2 linked regions of the Homo sapiens genome follow. The protein of the gene in region 1 purifies or fractionates together with the protein of each later gene. This does not show direct contact. Each region holds a gene or a part of one and is shown on either strand. Other genes may lie near its edges.

Region 1 (5,308 bases):
ACATCTAGTACTTGTGCTGCCTTGTCTGGATGGAGGAGGGGAAAAGAACAAGAGCTCACTGAGTTAAGATCCAGGAGATACACGTTCTCATCTACTACCCCATGTGTCAGGCAAGAACTCTGTGGCTGCTGCTTCCCTCGTGTGGGCCAATAGCAAGTAGGAGCAGCATGATGAAATAAATAACTCAAAAAATAATCTAGATAGTTATCACCAATATGGGCCACACCCTGTGATGGGAGTTCGGGGTGGCTCAGATCCAGTGCCTTCGCCCAGGGGCTCTGATACAATGCAGGGGACAAGCAAAGAGCTACTAAGGCTGAAAGGAATAAGTGATGGATACTGATCAGGGCTCAGAGAGTGTCCACAGTGATGGAGGCATTTGAGTTGGACCTTGAAGGGTTTTTAAGAGGCAGAAAAGATGAAGGAAACATGAGCAAAGGCAGAACAAGAAAGTGTGTAAATGTTTAGAAGAATGGAAAGTAGCATAAAGAGGTTGGAGTGTAAGATGTGTGGAAGAATAGTGTAGGATGTGGGGCAGGAGAGAGAGGATCCAGATCATGGGGGGCCTTGAGTGCCACGCTGTAGAGTTGGAACTTTATTCTGTAGCTAGGGAAAAGCCATGGAATGGTATCTTAAAAGAAGATAAAATGGTCAGATCTGTGCCTGGAAAGGATACTCTGGCTGTCATGTGGACTGGAGGGAGCTGGAATTGAGGCAGTGAGCCCAGCTACCAGAGTCTTGAAATAGTTTAGTGTAAGATGCTGAGTCATGAATTGGGGCAGAGAGGATAACAAAGTAGGGAAGTGGGGGTAGAGACAGTCGTAAGACCTGAGGAGGAAATGGCTAAGTGAGGGTTGAAGGAGGAAGGGGCCTCAGGCAATTTCATAGGTAGACAACAAACAAACAGTGTAAGTGTCTTGATGAGCCTACTCTGAAGGAAATAAGTTCCTTTCCCTGGGTGGGCTTTGGTTTCCTCATCTACCAAAAGACATTATCATGGAGTTGTTGTATGGTAGGTATAGAGTTTCAATTTTACAAGATGAGGAGATTCTGGGGATCTGCTGCACAACAAGGTGAATCTAGTTAACACTACTGAGTGTACACTCAAGAATGACTAAGATGGTATATTTTTATGTTTTGTGTGTGTGTGTGTGTGTGTGTGTGTGTGTGTTTTAAGCACAATTTTAAAAAATAGGCCAGCTGTGGTGCCTCACTCCTTTAATCCCGGTACTTTGGGAGGCTGAGGCCAGTGGGTCACCTGAGGTCAGGAGTTCGAGACCAGCCTGGCCAACGTGGAGAAACCCCGTCTCTACTAAAAATACAAAAATTAGCCGGGTACACGCCTGTATTCCCAGCTGCTCAGGAGGCTGAGGCAGGAGAACCGCTTGAACTCAGGAGGTGGAAGTTGCAGTGAGCCGAGATCACACCACTGCACTCCAGCCTGGGCAGGAAAGCAAGACCTCTGTCTCAAAAAACAAACAAACAAACAAACAAAAAACCCCACAAAGAAAGATGATCATCCTTTCCCTCCTCCTTCAAGGCTTGCTATGAGCATATACTTGTATTATGTAGAAGAGGATTAAAAACTTTTTTTTTATTTTCAAGAAGCAAATATGTACACATAGGTTTAAAAAAAAAAAAAAAGAATGGACGCAGCACATACAGTGAAGGTGAAAGCTCCTAGTCGTCCCAAGCTCCATCCCAGGGCAGGGCAGTTACCATTCAGTTTTCTTAGGTATCATTGGAAAGGGGTTTTAACTGACAGGGAGAGGGAGGGAAATCTCAATCTGGAAGACTCACCAGACTGCTGGCAAATCCACTGGCTCTCAGTCAGTTTCAGGAGTCCCTTTGTGGACACACTAAGGCTCCTCCACCCCCGAGCCTCTTCAGGATGTCTCTGGACACATCTGGGATCTCAGTATTGACTTCGGAGCTGGGAAAGCCCAGAGCTAGAAAGCAGGAGAGAAGGCAGAAAAGGAAGGAACCAGACACAAAGCACAAACTTCAGAACCAGGGTGGATTGCCCAAGGCCAGGCCCCAAGGATTATGCAACAGTCCTGCTGTGGGCTCTGACCCCCTCCCATGGCCCCTCCCCTTCCTGCAGCAGCTGGGTCAGGCCAGCCTAGGGTTGCAGTTAAAGGAACTGTGCAGTGACCAAAGGGCCTCTGATTGCTGTCCCCTACCTCCAGACTTACAGTGTCTTCACTGGGTGACTTCATGAGAAACCTGTTTAAAATGTGGACTCCCACTCAGGGACCAGCTGATGGTGCAGCCTAAAACATTCCCTTTCCTAAGGGTTACCTTAGCAAGGTCCTTTTCGAATCCCAAGGGAATTGACATGAGTGGGAGAATGCCAACTGGCAGCTGGGTTGATATTTTACATAGGAACAAATGATGTGTTACCACCCAATCTATTCAGATAGACAGGATATGAACACGGTCACAGAATGAACACTATCTGTAGCATAGCTTTGTTGTGAAAATTAAAGAACATCATGTAGTGCTTGGCACTAGACACTGCACATACGGTGGTTGTTTTTGTAGAGCAAGGCTGGAAGGGCCTTCAGAGCCCATCTAGGCTATATGCCCTCACTTTACGGTGAAGGAAATGGAAACCAGGGGAGTTGTCCCAGCTCAGCTGCTCCTTGTGTGACTTTGGACATAAGACTTCCCTTTTCTGGGCCTCAGCTTCTGTCCGCATCTGTAAAATGAAGGGGTCTCAGTTGGTTCTAACGTCCTGTGATGATACGAATCATGAAACCATGCTGTGAGACCATGGGAAGTTGGAGAGGCTGATGGGAGAGGCATTTTGGGGGCTTTCTAGAGCTTCTCAAATCCCAAGATAGAGAAGGCTGTGGACCTCTTCCTCACAGGTTAAGATGCTTCTGAGCCCTGGGACTGACTGACATCTAATATCCCAGTCGAGCCAAACTGAGAGATTTACTCATTTTTCCTCTTCACAGCTCACCTGCCAGGATGATCTAGCCTGAGGAGGGGATAGACTCTGCAGAAGGTGGGGGAAGGGGACAGTGTGGAGGGTAGGGTGGGCTTTGAGGCAGGGTTCCATGAGGGGAATAAAGATTCATGAGACCTTTCATGCCTCAGGGTCTCTCTGAATAGACTAGGATGTTTGTGCTTCTGACAGGAGGAGGAAAGGGGCCATAGTTCCACATCTCTAGGTGCTGGGTTTGTATGGGAGGGAAGGCTGGGGTGCCAGGGCCTCCTGTCTGCGTTAGGAGAGGCAGAAAGCTGATGAAGGCACAAGTTGGTTCTCTATGGGGCTCTGGGGCTGCCTCTGGGGCTCAAGCTGGGGACTGGCAGTCAGCAACAGGGGAGTTTTGCCACTGTTTCTGAGCTCCTTGGCTTCCCTGTCCAGGAGAGTCCCTGATTACTGAGATCCTTGGATGGGGGAGATGGAGCTCCTGCCCTGGAGAGGTCTTGCCTTGAAATAGAAGATAGGCCAGTGAGGAAGGAAGGTGAGCAGATGGCCAAGCTGAGAGGGACTTTAAGGATCATCTAGAATCTAGATTCCAGGCCAACCCCTCCATTTCGTAGATGAGGAAACTGAGGCTCAGAAGGGAGAAGTGACTAGTCCAAAATGACATGGCCCATAAATGGCAGCACTCAGACAAGAACCCAGGTGTTTGGGCTACTGTTCAGGTGCTCTTTCCACTACAAATGGCAGTGTTTCCTCACACCTAAGCTTCACATCACACCAGACACAGCCTGTTAGTGTCATGGGGCATCATCTCCTCTAACTTCGTCACTATGGCCTTTTCATGCACCACAGATTCTCGCCAATCTTAGTCAATGATCCAGTGAGATGGAGGTTGGTAAGCTTGGGAGGAGGAGTTAGACTTCGTTTATGCTCTCATCTTCCATGCACCCCACTGCTCCAGACCTACTCCTGATTCCCCAGATGAGCCAGGTTCACTCTCTGTTCCTGCTATTTCCCATACATTCACAGGTTCTCACAAACTGCACTTGCCTTACACTTGTCCAACCCCTAACTTGGAAGTTGGGGAATAAAGCTGTGATCTGAGGGATGAACTGGGGATCTTAGTGGGGTTTTCATTCAGGTTGCTCTGGGGAAAAGTGAAACTCTACCCTTGGGTCTTTCTTTCCCGTCACTCCGTTTCAGCTACTCTTTCAGAATGAGCGTCTTCAGTGTCTGGAAATGAAGTACAGAGAGGTAGGTAGAAAAAGTCACATAAAGCAGGTAGGTGATCCAAAGACAGTTCCTGGGGTGCACAGTTTTACCACTGTCCCCTTGGTGGTCTTACCACTCCTGTGGATTGGAGAGCTGGTGGAGTGGGAGAGGAGTTGAAGGAGTAGCCCTTAGCATCCAGTTGGAAGGACAAAGGAATAGAATCTGAGCTGGAAGAGATCTTCATGATCATGTTGTTGGTGCAACCCCCTCATTCAACCAGTGGGAAAATAGACCCTCCTCCCCAAGGGAATCACCTGCTTAAGGTCTCACAGCTCAGTAGTGGCAGAGTTGGAGCCAGAAACCAAGTATCTTGACTTCCCCTCCACAGACCTTTCCACTATAAGTTCCCTTCTGCCAGTAGGGCAGACTCTAAACTCTTCTGATTACCACTGAAGCTCCTTGAAATGTGACTCTGACACTGGCCTCATCTCCCCACAGCTCTTTTCAGTGGCCTGCACCCATGACACTGAAGTACAGGCCACTCTCCAAATATTCCTTGCACTTGCACATCTCTTGCCTTTGCTCATGCTGTTTTCTTAAACAAGAATGCCCTTCCTCTTTTTACCTGCCTGGCAAACTCCTACTCATCCTTCAAGACCCAACTCCAATTCATCTCTGCAGACCTTCTCCTGGGACTCCTCCTTCCTCACTCCCTAGCCAGTTAGTCTCTCCCTCTTGTTTTTTCCCAAAAGTGCTTTGCACGAAGGCTTATTAGAGCACTATACTGTACTGAAACTCTGTGTGTGTGTGTGTGTGTGTGTATGTGTGTGTGTGTATGTGTATGTGTGTAACTGTGCGCTTTAAGGTAAGAGGGCAGGGTCCTGTGCCTCATACATTTCTTTATTTCCCAGCCCTGATACCTAGCAGGCATTCAAGAATAAATGAATCAATGCCTCTTCTCTAAGAGCATTCCCCCGCTCTGGCACACGCACATACATTCATGAAAACAGTTTACAATATTTAAAAAGCAACCTCCAGGGCAGGGCAAAACAGATTTCATTTGGTCTGGGGAAGGGATGGCTCAAAGAAAAGAAGCCATCTCAGTCAGGTGGGGTGAGTCAGAGGAGGAAGAATTCTAAGCCTTCTTTGGAAGCCCAG
Region 2 (4,509 bases), on another chromosome or scaffold:
CCCATCACCCAAGCATCTTGCACTGTACCCAATATGTAGGTTTTTTTGTTTGTTTTTTTGAGACGGAGTCTCACTCTGTTGCCCAGCCCAGGCTGGAGTGTAGCGGCACGATCTCGGCTCACTGCAACTTCCGCCTCCCAGATTCAAGCGATTCTCCTGCCCCAGCCTCCCGAGTAGCTGGGATTACAGGCTCGTACCACCACACCCAGCTAATTTTTGTATTTTCAGTAGAGACGGGGTTTCACCTCCAACATGTAGTCTTTTATCCACCCCCCAACCTTTCCCCCTTACTCCCCAAAGTCCATTATATTACTCTTATGCCTTTGTGTCCTCATAGCTTAGCCCCACTTTTAAGTGAGACCATACAATATTTGGTTTTCCATCCCTGAGTTACTTCACTTAGAATAATGGCCTCTAGCTCTAAGTTTCTGCAAAAGACATTATTTCATTCCTTTTTACGGCTGAGTAGTATACCATGGTGTATATATGCCACATTTTTTTTTATCCACTCATTGGTCAATGGTCATTTAGATTGGCTCCATATCTGCAATTGCGAATTGTGCTGCTATAAACATTTGTGGATGTATCTTTTTCATATAATGATTTTTTTTTTTTTGCTTTGAGACACAGTCTCAATCTGTTGCCCAGGCTGGAGTGCAGTGGTACAATCTCAGCTCACTGCAACCTCCACCTCCCAGGTTCAAATGATTCTCCTGCCTCAGCCTCCCCTGTAGCTGGGATTACAGGCACCTGCCACCAGGCCCGGCTAATTTTTGTATTTTAGTAGAGACACGGTTTCACCATGTTGGCCACGCTGGTCTCAAACTCCTGACCTCAGGTGATCCACACGCCTTGGCTTCCCAAAGCGCTGGGATTACAGGCGTGAGCCACCACACCTGGCTGATTTCATTTCCTTTGGGAAGATACCCAGTAGTGGGTTTGCTGGATTGAATGGTAGTTCTGCTTTTCGTTCTTTAAGGAGTTTCCATACTGTTTTCCATAGTGGTTGTACTAATTTACATTCCCACCATCAGTGGAAAAATGTTCCCTTTTCACCACATCCACACCAACATCTATTGTTTTTTTTTTTTACTTATTCATTATGGCCATTCTTACAGGAGTAAGGTAGTGTCTCACTGTAGTTTTAATTTGCATTTCCCTGATGATTAGTGATGTTGTATGTTGTAGTTGCTCCTGGTTTTTTTTGTTTTGTTTTGTTTTTGAGATGGAGTCTCACTCTGTCACCCAGGCTGGAGTGCAGTGGCGCGATCTTGGCTCACTGCAAGCTCTGCCTCCCGGGTTCTCGCCATTCTGCCTAAGCCTCCCGAGTAGCTGGGACTACAGGTGCCTGCCACCAAGCTCGGCTAATTTTTTTTTTTGTATTTTTAGTAGTGACGGGGTTTTACCGTATTAGCCAGGATGGTCTCAATCTCCTGACCTCATGATCCGCCCACCTCGGCCTCCCAAAGTGCTGGGAATACAGGCGTGAGCCACCGCGCCTGGCCAAGTTTTGCTTTTTTGCCCAGACTGGAGTGAAGTGGCATGATCTTGGCTCACTGCAACCTCTGCCCCCCAGGTTCAAGCAATTCTCCTGCCTCAGCCTCCCGAGTAGCTGGGATTACAGGCATGCACCACCACACCTGGCTAAGTTTTGTATTTTTGGTACAGACAGGGTTTCACCGTGTTGGCCAGGCTGGTCTTGAACTCCTGACCTTAGGTGATCTGCCCACCTCGGCCTCTCAAATTGCTGGGATTATAGGCGTGAGCCACTGTGCCCAACCACCTGCCACTTTTTAAATAAAACATTTTGTAATGGTGCCAAGGAAAATTGATCATCTGTTTGTCTAAATATCTAAAGAACTCTGTTTTAAAACACTATCTACAAACACATATAAATAACTTAAAGAATGTAAGACACCTATAATATTATTTCTGCAATAAGTTTATAAACTTCATGAAAGCCATGCTTTTTTTTTTTTTTTTTTTTTTTTTTTTGAGACGGAGTCTCACTCTGTTGCCCAGGCTGGAGTGCAGTGGCGCAATCTCAGCTCACTGCAAGCTCCGCCTCCTGGGTTCACACCATTCTCCTGCCTCAGCCTCCCGAGTAGCTGGGACTACAGGCTCCTGCCACCTCGCCCAGCTAATTTTTTGTATTTTTGGTAGAGACGGGGTTTCACCATGTTAGCCAGGATGGTCTCAATCTCCTGACCTCATGATCCACTCACCTCGGCCTCCCAAAATGCTGGGATTACAGGCTTGAGCCACCGCGCCCGGCCGAAAGCCATGCTTTTTAGGTTTCCATAGTGATTAGCATAATGCCCTCCACAAAAAAGATATACAGTAAGTATTTGAGTTAATTAACATGGACTTTTAAAAGTAGTACAATAAAATTTTCCAGAATGATATAAAAAGTAGGAAAACCCATAAACATTATAACTCAATAGAATATTCACTCATCAACCAATAGTTAACTACAGCTATTAGGTGCCAGACTGTACTTAAAAGTTACACATATTATAACATGTATCTTTGGCTTACTAGAGCTTCAACCTCTATTTTCTTAAATTGTTTTCTGTTCCCACAGCCAACTTATTTTTTATATCATCAGCTGTCTAATCAGGAAGAAATGTGATTTATTTCAATATGAATTTTAAAAATTAAAGAATTTTTATCCCATGTATCTTGTACATTTAAAGAATTGACACTGATGACTACAGTAGAGATATTGACAGAACATTAGCCCTGCATATGCTATGTTTACACAAATAGATTTTTAAAAAACAATTAAGCAAGATGGTCAACATTATTTTAGGTGCAAAATTTCCAATCAAATGGACAGCTCCTGAAGCTGCACTGTATGGTCGGTTTACAATAAAGTCTGATGTCTGGTCATTTGGAATTCTGCAAACAGAACTAGTAACAAAGGGCCGAGTGCCATATCCAGGTAAGCTTGCATTTTATAGCTCTTGGTTATCTCATGAGTGGCTTTATCAGGAGTTTATTAGGAACAGAATTGTAAGCGGGGAAAAGGCCTTTATTTCTTCTCATAGTCCCCCTGCCTCTCCCTCTCCCCACTCCTTCCCTTTACTGTGGCATTGGATGGGTAACTGTGGCATTGGACGGGTAAGTCAGTGAAAGCCACGATCCTTGACAGGGTGAGCACATGAGATAGGCCCCACATTCACCTCAGCTTTCTCAGGACATTTTCCAAAGGGGCCTCTTACTGTTCTCTCAGATAATAAACATATCTTAAATATCCTGGCTCATCCACCCTATACCCTAAATAACTGTTCTTTCCCAGTAGTGTGATTGGTGTTTTGTTTTTTTTTTTTTTTTTTTTTTAAACACAGTCTTGCTCTGTCACCCAGGCTGGAGTGCAGTGGTACAGTCTGGCTCACTGCAACCTGTCTCCCGGGTTCAAGCAATTCTCCTGCCTCAGCCTCCCAAGTAGCTGGGATTACAGGCACCCACCACCACACCCAGCTAATTTTTTGTATTTTTAGTAGAGATGGGGTTTTGCCATGTTGGCTAAGCTGGTCTCGAACTCCTGACCTCAGGTGATCCACCTGCCTAGGCCTCCCAAAGTGCTGGGATTACAGGCGTGAGCCACCGTGCCCATCATGGTATATTTTTTTAAATATGTACTTGCCTTGTTTTCTTCAGTAGATTATTTTGAGATTCTTTTCTTGTTTTATTTCTCTAACCTATTTATAAACCAGCACTTTAATAAATATATCTGCCATTAATAAAGAGGAAAAATGAAAGTGTTTCCCTTTCAAAATTAAGAGACTTTTTTTTTTTTTTTTTTTTTGAAATGGAGTCTCGCTCTGTCGCCCAGGCTGGAGTGCAGTGGCACGATCTCAGCTCACTGCAGCCTCCACCTCCCAGCTTCACGCCATTCTCCTGCCTCAGCCTCCCGAGTAGCTAGGACTATAGGCACCCGCCACCACGCCCAGCTAATTTTTTGTATTTTTAGTAGAGACGGGGTTTCACCGTGTTAACCAGGATGGTCTCGATCTCCTGACCTTGTGATCTGCCCGCCTCGGCCTCCCAGAATGCTGGGATTACAGGCGTGAGCCACCGTGCCTGGCCTCAAAATTAAGAGATTTATATAGTTTCTAGGGGGAAGGAGAAATTTTAGCTCACTTGAAATTCAGCGATCAGTATTACTTTAGTTTGTTACTTCTAAACTCTTGTACTGAAGTATCCTAATGTTGAGAGTGAAAGCATATAAAATTTAATCTTTAGGAAAAACTGTTTTGCTAATCTTATGGGTTTTGCATGTTATCTAACATATTCCTCTTCCCTACAGTTCCCTCCAGCTGTAGATCTAATGCCATCAAATTTTATCACCCACTTTGTCTGGTTGCTGTTATTCACTGATACCATTCAAGTTATTCTCATTTAATGACTCACCATTGTCCTCTCCAACAAAACTCCTCTCCTGTCTTAACTCATTGTCATCTTAATACACATGGTGATGATTCTTCTATTACCCTGGTCTCTTGT

The links.
Region 2: the proteins of KCNE3 (region 1) and YES1 purify together in Homo sapiens (co-immunoprecipitation; 2 studies listed by BioGRID and IntAct, with this or other methods). This does not show direct contact.

The regions. Positions count from the first base shown.
Region 1 is NC_000011.10:74,460,155-74,465,462, forward strand, and holds part of KCNE3 (potassium voltage-gated channel subfamily E member 3), read right to left. Parts: exon of another isoform or gene 4,108-5,308; intron 2,702-4,107; exon of another isoform or gene 2,528-2,701; intron 1,979-2,527; exon of another isoform or gene 1,950-1,978; 5' UTR 1,801-1,949; intron 1-1,800. UniProt on the Homo sapiens protein: Ancillary protein that functions as a regulatory subunit of the voltage-gated potassium (Kv) channel complex composed of pore-forming and potassium-conducting alpha subunits and of regulatory beta subunits.
Region 2 is NC_000018.10:731,269-735,777, reverse strand, and holds part of YES1 (tyrosine-protein kinase Yes), read left to right. Parts: intron 1-2,812; coding exon 2,813-2,944; intron 2,945-4,509. UniProt on the Homo sapiens protein: Non-receptor protein tyrosine kinase that is involved in the regulation of cell growth and survival, apoptosis, cell-cell adhesion, cytoskeleton remodeling, and differentiation.